Linked DNA regions of Homo sapiens. The protein of the gene in region 3 interacts with the protein of the main gene of each other region in a pairwise test. Each region holds a gene or a part of one and is shown on either strand. Other genes may lie near its edges. The genes, in order: HERC3, BMP10 and CD33.

Evidence for each region.
Region 1: the proteins of CD33 (region 3) and HERC3 interact in a two-hybrid assay, tested with the Homo sapiens proteins (one large-scale study listed by BioGRID and IntAct).
Region 2: the proteins of CD33 (region 3) and BMP10 interact in binary tests that used the Homo sapiens proteins (3 or more experiments, as listed by UniProt).

Annotation. Positions count from the first base shown.
Region 1 is NC_000004.12:88,654,884-88,658,539, reverse strand, and holds part of HERC3 (probable E3 ubiquitin-protein ligase HERC3), read right to left. Parts: intron 3,367-3,656; coding exon 3,236-3,366; intron 2,666-3,235; coding exon 2,505-2,665; coding exon of another isoform or gene 2,467-2,504; exon of another isoform or gene 1,106-2,466; intron 126-1,105; coding exon 49-125; intron 1-48. UniProt on the Homo sapiens protein: E3 ubiquitin-protein ligase which accepts ubiquitin from an E2 ubiquitin-conjugating enzyme in the form of a thioester and then directly transfers the ubiquitin to targeted substrates.
Region 2 is NC_000002.12:68,864,750-68,868,405, forward strand, and holds part of BMP10 (bone morphogenetic protein 10 preproprotein), read right to left. Parts: intron 1,823-3,656; coding exon 882-1,822; 3' UTR 1-881. UniProt on the Homo sapiens protein: Required for maintaining the proliferative activity of embryonic cardiomyocytes by preventing premature activation of the negative cell cycle regulator CDKN1C/p57KIP and maintaining the required expression levels of cardiogenic factors such as MEF2C and NKX2-5.
Region 3 is NC_000019.10:51,235,017-51,237,890, reverse strand, and holds part of CD33 (myeloid cell surface antigen CD33 isoform 1 precursor), read right to left. Parts: intron 2,735-2,874; coding exon 2,638-2,734; intron 2,374-2,637; coding exon of another isoform or gene 2,297-2,373; coding exon 2,215-2,296; intron 2,069-2,214; coding exon of another isoform or gene 2,060-2,068; exon of another isoform or gene 1,925-2,059; intron 1-1,924. UniProt on the Homo sapiens protein: Sialic-acid-binding immunoglobulin-like lectin (Siglec) that plays a role in mediating cell-cell interactions and in maintaining immune cells in a resting state.

The DNA.
Region 1 (3,656 bases), on a different chromosome or scaffold from region 3:
TTCACTATTATTCCTTCCTGGAAATAAGAGTCACAAGAAAAATTTTACCTCGTATTTGGAGCAAAGTACAAAAGTCTGGTCTCCTCCAGAGAAGATCTGCTTAACGATATGATATTTAAAGCGATCTGTCAAAAAAAAAATTCCGAAAGCATATTTTTCATTAATTGAAGTTTCTCCTTGATCCCCTTTTCTACTGTCGCAGAATACACTTCAGAGTGGGTACCTATCCATTTTAATTGTGTCACAGAAGTAAGAAATCTTCTCCCCTGGCTCACTGCCTAGGACTGTTTCTACTTCAATTAAAAATAAATATATAAAATGGTATCCTCCACTCTAACTCTTCTTCTGCCCCTCCCCAACTGCCAGTGAATCCTGACCTAGTTTCTCTTTTTCATTCTAACTCTGTCATGCCACTGACCTGAAATCTGAAATGGGCACTATTCTTTATGGTAACAATTCAGCATGTGAGTGTGGTGGGCCCAGGCCCCGTCAGGACGAATCTTGCCACGGAAGGACCTCCGTTTCCTGCTCCCTGCTTTACCTCCCATCACACTGTGTCCACGGTGACATTCTCCTACTACCACGTTGCCTTTATTTCTAATACACCACACTATTTCACATCTCGGTGCCTCCCCCCTCTGCTGCCCCTGGCACATGGGATTCTCCATGAATGTGCCCACCGAGAGCACAACCTGAATGTGCTTCTGGAACTGCACCTTGGTGGTGCTCACACCAACTCCCTCACAGTCCTCTACACCTGGCTAACTCCAAATCATCCTTCGAGGCACAGCTCAAACTTCCTCTAACCACAATACTCCTCCATGCCTTCCTCTGTGCTCCCACATTACCAAGAGGGTTCCTAAAACCATGTCATTTACATAACTGACATTTACCTGCTTATGTTATAAAATCATTTTGGCAAACATCCAAGCACAAATTTAGGACCATGGAAGTCAGGTTATAATTCAACTTCAAAAATTTGTGGTTTTGAAATAACCAAAAAACACCTGAGTTGGTAAACTTTCTAAATAAATGTATTCCACGTATGAGTACAATGTCTTGGAGAAAAGAATTTACAAATTACAGAGAAGAGGACACAAAGCCATTCTTTTGCTTCTGGGAACATCACCCAGACAAAATCTTGTTTATTTATATTTTAAGTTGCACTACATTTCAGATGCTCATATATCCATTCCAAAAATGTCTACTGAGTGACAAGTTCATGCCAGGTCCTGTGCTATATGCTAGGTTTACAAAAAGGAAAAGAGTTTGTCTGTGTCCTTGAGTTTCTTATAATCCAGTACTAAAACTTATGATGGTTACTGTTTCAAACAAATTCCTGATCAAGCCATAAGTGTGTCACTTTATCGACTTCAAAATCAAAATTAATAAGTTACACTTCCTTTTAATGATTCTCTAGCTCCATTTCAGCCTCAGATTTATTATTTCAAGGTGAAGCAGTCATTCAATATTAATGACTGCCTGACTTTGATTTCCAATGAAACCAAGACTGCTATTTAACTATTTTTTAAGGGAAGAAAAAAAATGGCTTAAAAAGAAATCACATCATGTTATATACCAAAATGCCAACAGCAAAGTAGAGGTAACATAGTACACATGATTTAGAATGACCTGGGTTTAAATCCTGCCTCCAGAATCTATGTGATCTTGGGCAAATTACTTGACCTCCTTAAGACTTTGTTCCCTTATCTCTAACATGGGGATAATAACCACTAACTAGTTCTTAGATTATTTTGAGTGCTTTGCATAGTAATGAAACGTCATTAAGCATTCAATACATGCGAACTGTCATTATTAGCAACAACAATAAAATGTATACACCACCACCAAGGTCTGTGGAAACAAAATAACTGGTATAGTTTGAATGTATGTTCTGGTCAAAACTCATGTTGAATTGCAGTAATCCCAATGTTGGAGGTGAGGCATGGTGGTATGTGTTTAGATCATGAGGGCGGATCCCTCATGAATGGCTTGGGCCATCCCCTTGGTGATAAGTGAGCTCTTGCTCTGAGTTCACATGAGATCTGGTGGTGTAAAAAGTATGGCACCTCCTCTCCACTCTTCCTCTTGCTCCTGCTTCTGCCATGTGAAGTGTCTGCTCCTTCTTTGCCTTCTGCCATGACTGTAAGATTCCTGAGGCCTCCCCAGAAGCCAAGCAGATGGCTGCATCATGCTCCCTGTAGAGCCTGCAGAACTGTGAGCCAATTAAAACTCTTTTCTTCATAAATCACCCTGTTTCAGGTGCTCTTTACAGCAATGCAAGAACGGCCTAACACAACAGTATTTCCTGCTTTATTTATTCTCTAGGATCTCAACTCTACAGCTTCATGCATAGTAAGTACAGAAATTATTAATTGATGTTAAAAAATACCTTATCTTCATTCCCTCCAAAAGACCTCAAAGTAAGTAATAGATACATATTCTGTAAACAACTGTTTTCATCACTTAAAATACCTTTAAATTCCAGAGACAATCATTCTTACCAGCTCGGGCTGAAAGCTGGCCACTGTGGGCAGCCCAGTAACCCTTGACAGGAGATGGGCACTTAACATTACAAGTGTGCCCAGTTCCTAATTGACCTCTTGCTCCACAACCAAATGCATAGATGAGTCCAGAAGAAGGCACGAAGGCTAGGGTATGTTGTCTGTGAAAAAATAATTTAACTCATCAGCATAGTTTCTACTAATGTGGATGTACACTCTGACTCTGACTTTTAACTTCCACATGTGCACAGCACAGGGTGCTCCTATAGAGCCTTTCCCATGTTAACACGTGACTCTTCTTGCAGCGGCTGCTCTCCATAATACTATCCTCTAACACTCTAGATCATGAGGAGGGTGGCAAGTCAGGAAAGAGCTGAATGATCTACTGCATGTGGCCTCTAAGATGAACAGAGAGAAGCAGGGTAGACTCAGGCAAAAATTTCCAAGAAGTTCTTTGGGACTCTCTCACTTTTCCTTTCTTTATCCCTTCCCCACATCCTGCTACTCTTTATCCCAAAAGAAGCCTAATGTCTCCGTGTTGCTCTGCTTATCTAAAACCCTTCCTTGCCACACTCTATCAAGGTCTTTCTCCACATTTCACCATAGGCGTGCATGCAGTTAAGATCTCTTAAAATGACGGTGACTAGGTATAATCACATTCTTCATCACTACAAAGATAAGACCAATTTCTGGGTCCTAGTGAATACAAGCAAGCTTTGAGGAACACTCACCTGCCACAAGCAATTTGAGTTACTTCACTACCCATCAGCTCTAGAACTCTTCTAGGGTTAACCTCATCATTCATGGAGTCGTGTCCAAGTTGCCCACAGGAACCAGCGCCAAAGGTAAACACACCTCCACTCTAACAAGGAACAAACACCATAGGACTTCACTGTATCTTTAAGGGTATACCTCTAAACCCTGTATACAAAATGCCTATCACAACAATGTGCACAAGAGCACTACATTCACTTGACACTTGGCCAAAATCACTTTGTAAGGATGTTCATTAAATAGAAAAATAATAAAAAGGGAATTTCAGACTGCATCTTTATGGAACAAAGATAGCAATGCTCAAAGGAATGTGTGCCTTCTGTAAATTTTTAAAATCGTTTGAAAGTACAATGATGTGTTAGGAAGCAAAATTTTAAA
Region 2 (3,656 bases), on a different chromosome or scaffold from region 3:
AACCACTTTTGGTTTTACAGACACATCTGAGGATAGCCTCTGAGGATAACATCAATATCCTCTTCCCTTTCTCCCTTTCTCCCCTTCAAGTACCCTCCCAACCCCTCTACTCTCTGCAGCAGCAATGGCCAGTACTCATGGCCTTGCTTTCCTATTGTCTCAGGAACAGATTTCATGCTGGTTTCTTCTGTTTTCCTGCCTTGACCAGGAGTTGCCCTCTGGAGCACATTGGTCCTCCATGGGTTCATTTTTTCCTGTTGTACCTCTAAGACCTCTTAAGTCCATTTGGTTTCTGTATCAATTAACCCTTCCCTTCAAGCATCCTTTGCCAGGCCCCTCCTCTCTGAGCAACTACAGAAACTCAACTGACAAAAGCTACACTTACATTTCCAGAGTATTTAGGAAGGGTAATACTTCCTAGGATGATTAAAACCCTGATGTCAATTATCTTGACTTAAATCCTACTCAGAGAAGAGGTAACAGAGAACATACCATTGGCCTTTAATATGCATACATTTGAGTGAGTCATGCATGTAGATGAGTATAACCTGCCTGCATAGAACCAAAAGATTTTTGTAAGTTCATGTATGTACAAATATACATACACAAGTGTGTGTCTTTTGACACTGTATTTTGCCTAGGGGTTGTTTTCAAATCAACAGGGAGGTGGCATTGCCAGGAAATGGCAAGTCCAAAGAGAAAACAGATTGAAAGGGACTTAACTGGAGAGGAAAATATGCATTTCCTACAACAAACTGACCTGTCCATTTCCTGAAGGCAGCAAGCCTCTATTACTGTACACCCTTATTAAATAATCTCATTAAATAGGAACACCAAATATACACATTTACAGTTATTAAATAAGCCATAGGACTCTTCTTCTATCTACAGCCACATTCGGAGACGGCCATGCCTTCGTATTTAAACTTGTAGGTGACGACGCCTTTGTCTAAATAGAGGATGGAGATGGGCTCTAGCTTTGTGGGCACACAGCAGGCTTTGGAAGCTTTCTGGGAATTCTTGAGGTGGACCAAGGCCTGGATAATTGCATGCTTTGTGGGTGTGAGATGCTCTGCCAGGGGGTAGTTACAAACACCACGGCATTCATAGGCTTCGTATCCAGGCGGAGCGATGATCCAGGAGTCCCACCCAATCTCCTTGAAGTCGATGTAGAGCGGGGTCCTCTTACAGTAGTTTCCTTTGGCGTTCCTTCTGATTCGGGCAGTGGAGTCATAGATGATGTTTGATCTCATCTGCAACAAAGCCTCTTCCCCAGGTCCACTGGAAAAGCTATCCAGGCCCAAGTTGTCCAGCTCTGGAAGTTGCTCATGGGAAATCATTTCATTCAGTTCCTCCTTCCTCTCCTTGTCACTGCTTTGGTCATCAGAAAACACGATGAGCAAAGGGTTATGCTTATTCTGGGCACTGGTATCTATTTCTAGCCGTCCACTGCTGGCATCCTCAGCTTCATCGTGTTTGCTCTCAATGTGGACCTCCAGCTGGTGGGTGGATGAGCCTGACTTTTGCCAACGTCTGATGGCATCTGTGACATCAAAAGTCTCCCACTCACTGTTGGTTCCATATATCTCCCCAGACACCAAGACCAGCATGTTTCTTTCTCCCTCATTATCCCCTTTGCTCTCCAGCACTTCAAAAATGGTAATTTTCCGGTCTACTCCATCGTATATCATACGATCCCTTTGCACCAGTGTGTATAGCCTAAGTTCAGCCATGATGACCTCTTCATGGTGAGGAATGGACACATTGAAGAGGAGGGGGTATTTTCGGAGCCCATTAAAACTGACCGGCTGGGAAAACAGATCTGAAAAAAGAAATTTGCAAAAATCAGGTTTGCAGTGGGTCTCAGGGAAAAACAGATGCTTATTTATGTAATAAGAAGGCCTTCCCATGCACAAAGCTTAATGCAGAAAGAATGAAGGGAGAAAATCAATGAGAACAAACACAATGTCAGCATTCTGTGACACAGGAAATCCCAAAAGGTCAGTGGTAGAATGCCCAAAAGAGTTCAGCTGCCAAGACTAAAATGGAAAATGGGGGTCTAATGGATGGCATAAAACTCAGCCAACCTTGCTTGAATAGCTCATCAGCCACAGAATTACAGAACTGGGAGGGACCTTGGAGATTGTGTGGGCAAGTCCCCAAATTTCCTAACAAACAAAACGCCACCAAATGGGACATGTGGTGATTGTTCCTTTCTTGAAGCTTTTCGGGGATGAGGACTTCATGGTTTTTTAATATTTGTGTTTGTAGTGGGTGGAGATCCCCGCACAGTTGGCTGGACACTGGTCTTCCTAAAAGACCTCCATTTAGATCAGAGGTTGGTAAACTATAGCCTATGGGCCAATATGGGCCTGCTACCTGCTTTTGGAAATAAAGTTTTATTGGAACACAGCCTCATCCATTGTTTTTGTATTGTCTGTGGCTACTTTTGCACTATAATGGCAGAGTTAAATAGATACAACAAAGAACATATAGCCTGCAAAGCTTAAAATAGTTATTATCTGTCTGGCCCTTTACAGTAGAAACTTGCTGACTTCTGTTCTAGGCAACAAAGCCTGACAAGGCCAATAAGACAGCCATAAACCAAGAGGGTCTCAGCAATTGACTGCTGGTTATATGGTTCTCTATAAAGAGGAATGGGAGAAAATGAATCCTGGGACTAGATTGGTTGCCTTAGTCTTGTACCCCTAGCACCTGGCATGGGGCGTGACATGTATAACTCACTCAATAATGTTTATGAATCAACTCTGTAAAAGTCCTTTAGTCTTAGAAGCATACTTCCAAATACGATCATGTTGACTTCCTATCTGAATATTTCACAGTGAGCCCAAAGCTCCTGCACACTTGCCTCAGGTAATGAGTCTACAAGGAAGCCCTGAAGGCATTTGCCATCAGATTATCAAAGGACTCCATGGCACCGAAGATGCTAAGGACCACCAACTGGGGGTTCTCTGTCATCATTGGCAGCATTTCCCCAAGTTTATACTTAGTTCATGATCTCGGTGAGTCCCTGTTTCAGATTATAATCTTTTAATATTTTTCTTTAATTTGATCTAATTATTTTATACTTATTATCTATTTTAGACTGTTCCTAAGCAACATAATTCATTAAAGGAGAGATTTGAGGTGATATTTATGTGTGTTTGCTAAAAATCCATACTAAGAAAAATATACAATAATTTCACATGATTAATAGCTTTCTTTGGGTACCACCTAAATTAATCTTACACACTGCTAGTGGGAAATGCTGACCTACAGAATAAATTTAAACTCCCTGGCATGGCTCTCAAGACCAGCTATATCTGGGTCTTAACCTCCTGATCAGCCATAGCTTACATACGTCCTCCACAGTGCATGGAACATTGTGATTACTCAATAATATTTGTGAACAATTGAATGGATTTGTAAACCCTTCTGTTTTAACTACATTGATATCTTTACCACCTGTCAAAACACTCTTTTTTTCCCTGCAATTTTCACCTTTTCACATGTTCTTCTGACCCTTGGAAAGCCCTTTCACCTCACCTCCACCTATCCAGCTCTGACATCTCCTATAAAAGCCTCCCTTACTTCTCATCTGAAAGTTCCCTCCTCTCCCCTCTGAAATCATTTGATCACTTTATATCTCCTTTGAT
Region 3 (2,874 bases):
CATCTCTTGGCTTGATTATCTGTGTATCTTCTATTCTGGTATCTTCTCTTCTATACTACATACTAGAGTTTCTCACAGAGCAGCCAGAGTGACTCCCACTAAAATGAGTGTCAGTTCATGTCACTCTTCTGCTCTAAACGCATCAATAACTATGATGGACTTAGGATCCTGCAATATTTGCAGCTCCTATGTCTCTTCAACCTCATTTCCTACCTACCATTGTTCAGTCCACACTCCACCCCCAACACGTAACTCTGCCTTATCCACACTGTCCTACTTTGTTTCTCTAAAACATCAGATGTGTTCCGGCCTCAGAGCCATGGTACTTGCTGCTTCCTTGATGATTCTCTACTGCTCATACTGTACTCACTTTCTTTCTGCAGGTGTTTGCCCAAAGGCCATTCTTTGGCCCCCAGGACTGTCCAATCCGTTCTCCCATTTCATTTCCTGCCATAGCACTTATTTCATGCCTATTTCATGTATATTTGCACTGCTTATTTGTTCATTATTTTCATCCCTTTCCCCAATAAATGTTAAGCCCCCGATAGGAGGAATATTTTATATTTGTAAACTGTGTGTTTATAAAAATACAGAATGGCACAAGGACCTAGAGCAATTGGCAAATGGGATTATATAGATATTTCAGAATGAATGGGTGCTGGTTGACCCTGTGTTCAAAAACTTTACTGTGGTGTTCACTTTAGTCAGAGTTAAATAAATTAAAAAAAAAATCAGAGCTTGAAGGATGCACTGGAGTTGGGCAGGTAGCTATTAGGCATATGAGGAGGAGGGGACAGCCCAGCAATGATTCTGAGATGAGAAAGCTTGCCCTGCTTGAGGTGATTGAGTGGCTAATGTTGGGGGAGCATAGCACTGAAGGGGACTCTGGTTTTCCTGCTCCAAATGCCAGACCAAGTTGTTGGAATGCCAATCTTTCAGGAGTGTAGAGAAGCAGTGCATTTCAAACTTGGGAATGATGGGACAATGACCTTTTAGGGAGGTGATGCTAATGTTCTGGAGAGGAGAAATGGGAGGTGAGGCTGCAGCAGAATAAGGAGTAAGAGGGGCTCTCGGCTCAGGAGTGGTTGTGTTAAGCCGTGTTCAGAGGAAGCTCAGACATGCATCGTAGCATACTGGCACAGGAAGAGATGGAGGACTGGGACAGGAGGGGGCCATGTCTCTGGTTGGGTAATGGGGACAAGAGTGCCATCAGCGAGATGGAGAACCCATCAGGAGAAGTATGTTTAGGGGTGTGTCAACCAAGTGTTTCTGATGTTTTGACATCTGGGGCATTACTGACCCTTGAGAGACTGCCTTTCCCAAGGATAGTAGATTTCTAGAGCTAATAAAGGACTTGCATACAAGTGCACCTTTCATGTGCAAACCAGTCAATCTAAAGCCCACACTACCAGCTGGATCCTTTATTGAGCTCTTACACTCCAGACCACAATCCTCCTTAATAAACCCAGGGCCATGTACCAGACAACTAGAGACAACTCCTATACCCCAGAGTCTGCTGAAATTGTTCTAAGTAGCCAATCCTAAACCTGCCTAGCTTGCTTACCCTGTCTTGCCCATTCTTTTCCATGAAAGCCACAGTGAAGGCTCTTGTCCCATTTTCTCCTTGCTCCCTCTGCTTCCTGACTGACCCTGGTGCTTCTCCATATGGCCTTGCATGGTGTGGTGTGCCCTCTCGGGAACGGTGAATAAGAAACTATTTTTTTTTTCTTTTTGGGACAGAGTCTCTCTCTGTCACCCAGGCTGGAGTGCAGTGGTGCTATGTCGGCTCACTACAAGCTCTGCCTCCCGGGTTCATACCATTCTCCTGCCTCAGCCTCCCAAGTAGCTGGGACTACAGGCGCCAGCCACCACATCTGGCTAATTTTTTGTATTTTTAGTAGAGACGGGGTTTCACCATGTTAGCCAGGATAGTCTCAATCTCCTGACCTCGTGATCCGCCCGCCTTGGCCTCCAAAGGTGCTGGGATTGCAGGTGTGAAACACTGTGCCCGGCCAAGAAACTATCTTTTCAATGGCCATCATCTCCTGATCTGTTGGCCTCAACGTACCTGAAAAATATTAAAACCTACACTGTTAAACAGGAGGAAAGACAATAAGCTCAGTTCTGGAAATGCTGAATGGGGCATGACGGTGGGCCACATTGGGAGGAGGTGTCTGCAGGACAGACTGGATGCCAGGATGCCCCATCACTCACCGGGGAGGCTGACCCTGTGGTAGGGTGGGTGTCATTCCTGCCCACTGCTGTCCTGGCTGCTTTCCTCCTGTGGGTCTTCACTCTGATGGGAGACACCAGGGTCTTTGAGCCTGGTTTTCTCAGGCTGTGGGGCCATTGTTATGAGCCTGGAATGAGGGACTTTGGCAGGTAAAGGGTGGGATTAATCCAGGAGCCCTCAAACAAGACTTAGTCACAAGGTCTCCCTCTACCTCCCACTCCTTGGACATCTGAGATCAGGGCCCTGGAATAGACCCACGCCTATCCCAGTGGCCACAGGCTGGATTCTGTACATCATCACACCCCCTGCCCTTTCTCCAGCCCTCACAGCCCCTCCAGGACCCTTCTACACCAGGTCCATCCTCTTCACCTCTGGCCCATGCCTGACCCAGAGAAAATGCTCACATGAAGAAGATGAGGCAGAGACAAAGAGCGAGCAGGGCTGTAACACCAGCTCCTCCAATGGCCCCATGAACCACTCCTGCTCTGGTCTCTTGTTTCCCTGCAGACAAAAAAGATTTGGGGTGAATTCTAATCTAGATAAACAGGTATGTGTATCCTCCTCTCCAGCATGTAGAGAGGGGTGACTTCACCTCCAAAATGGGGTTTAGCTCCTAGATCTTCCCACCCATCATAGACATC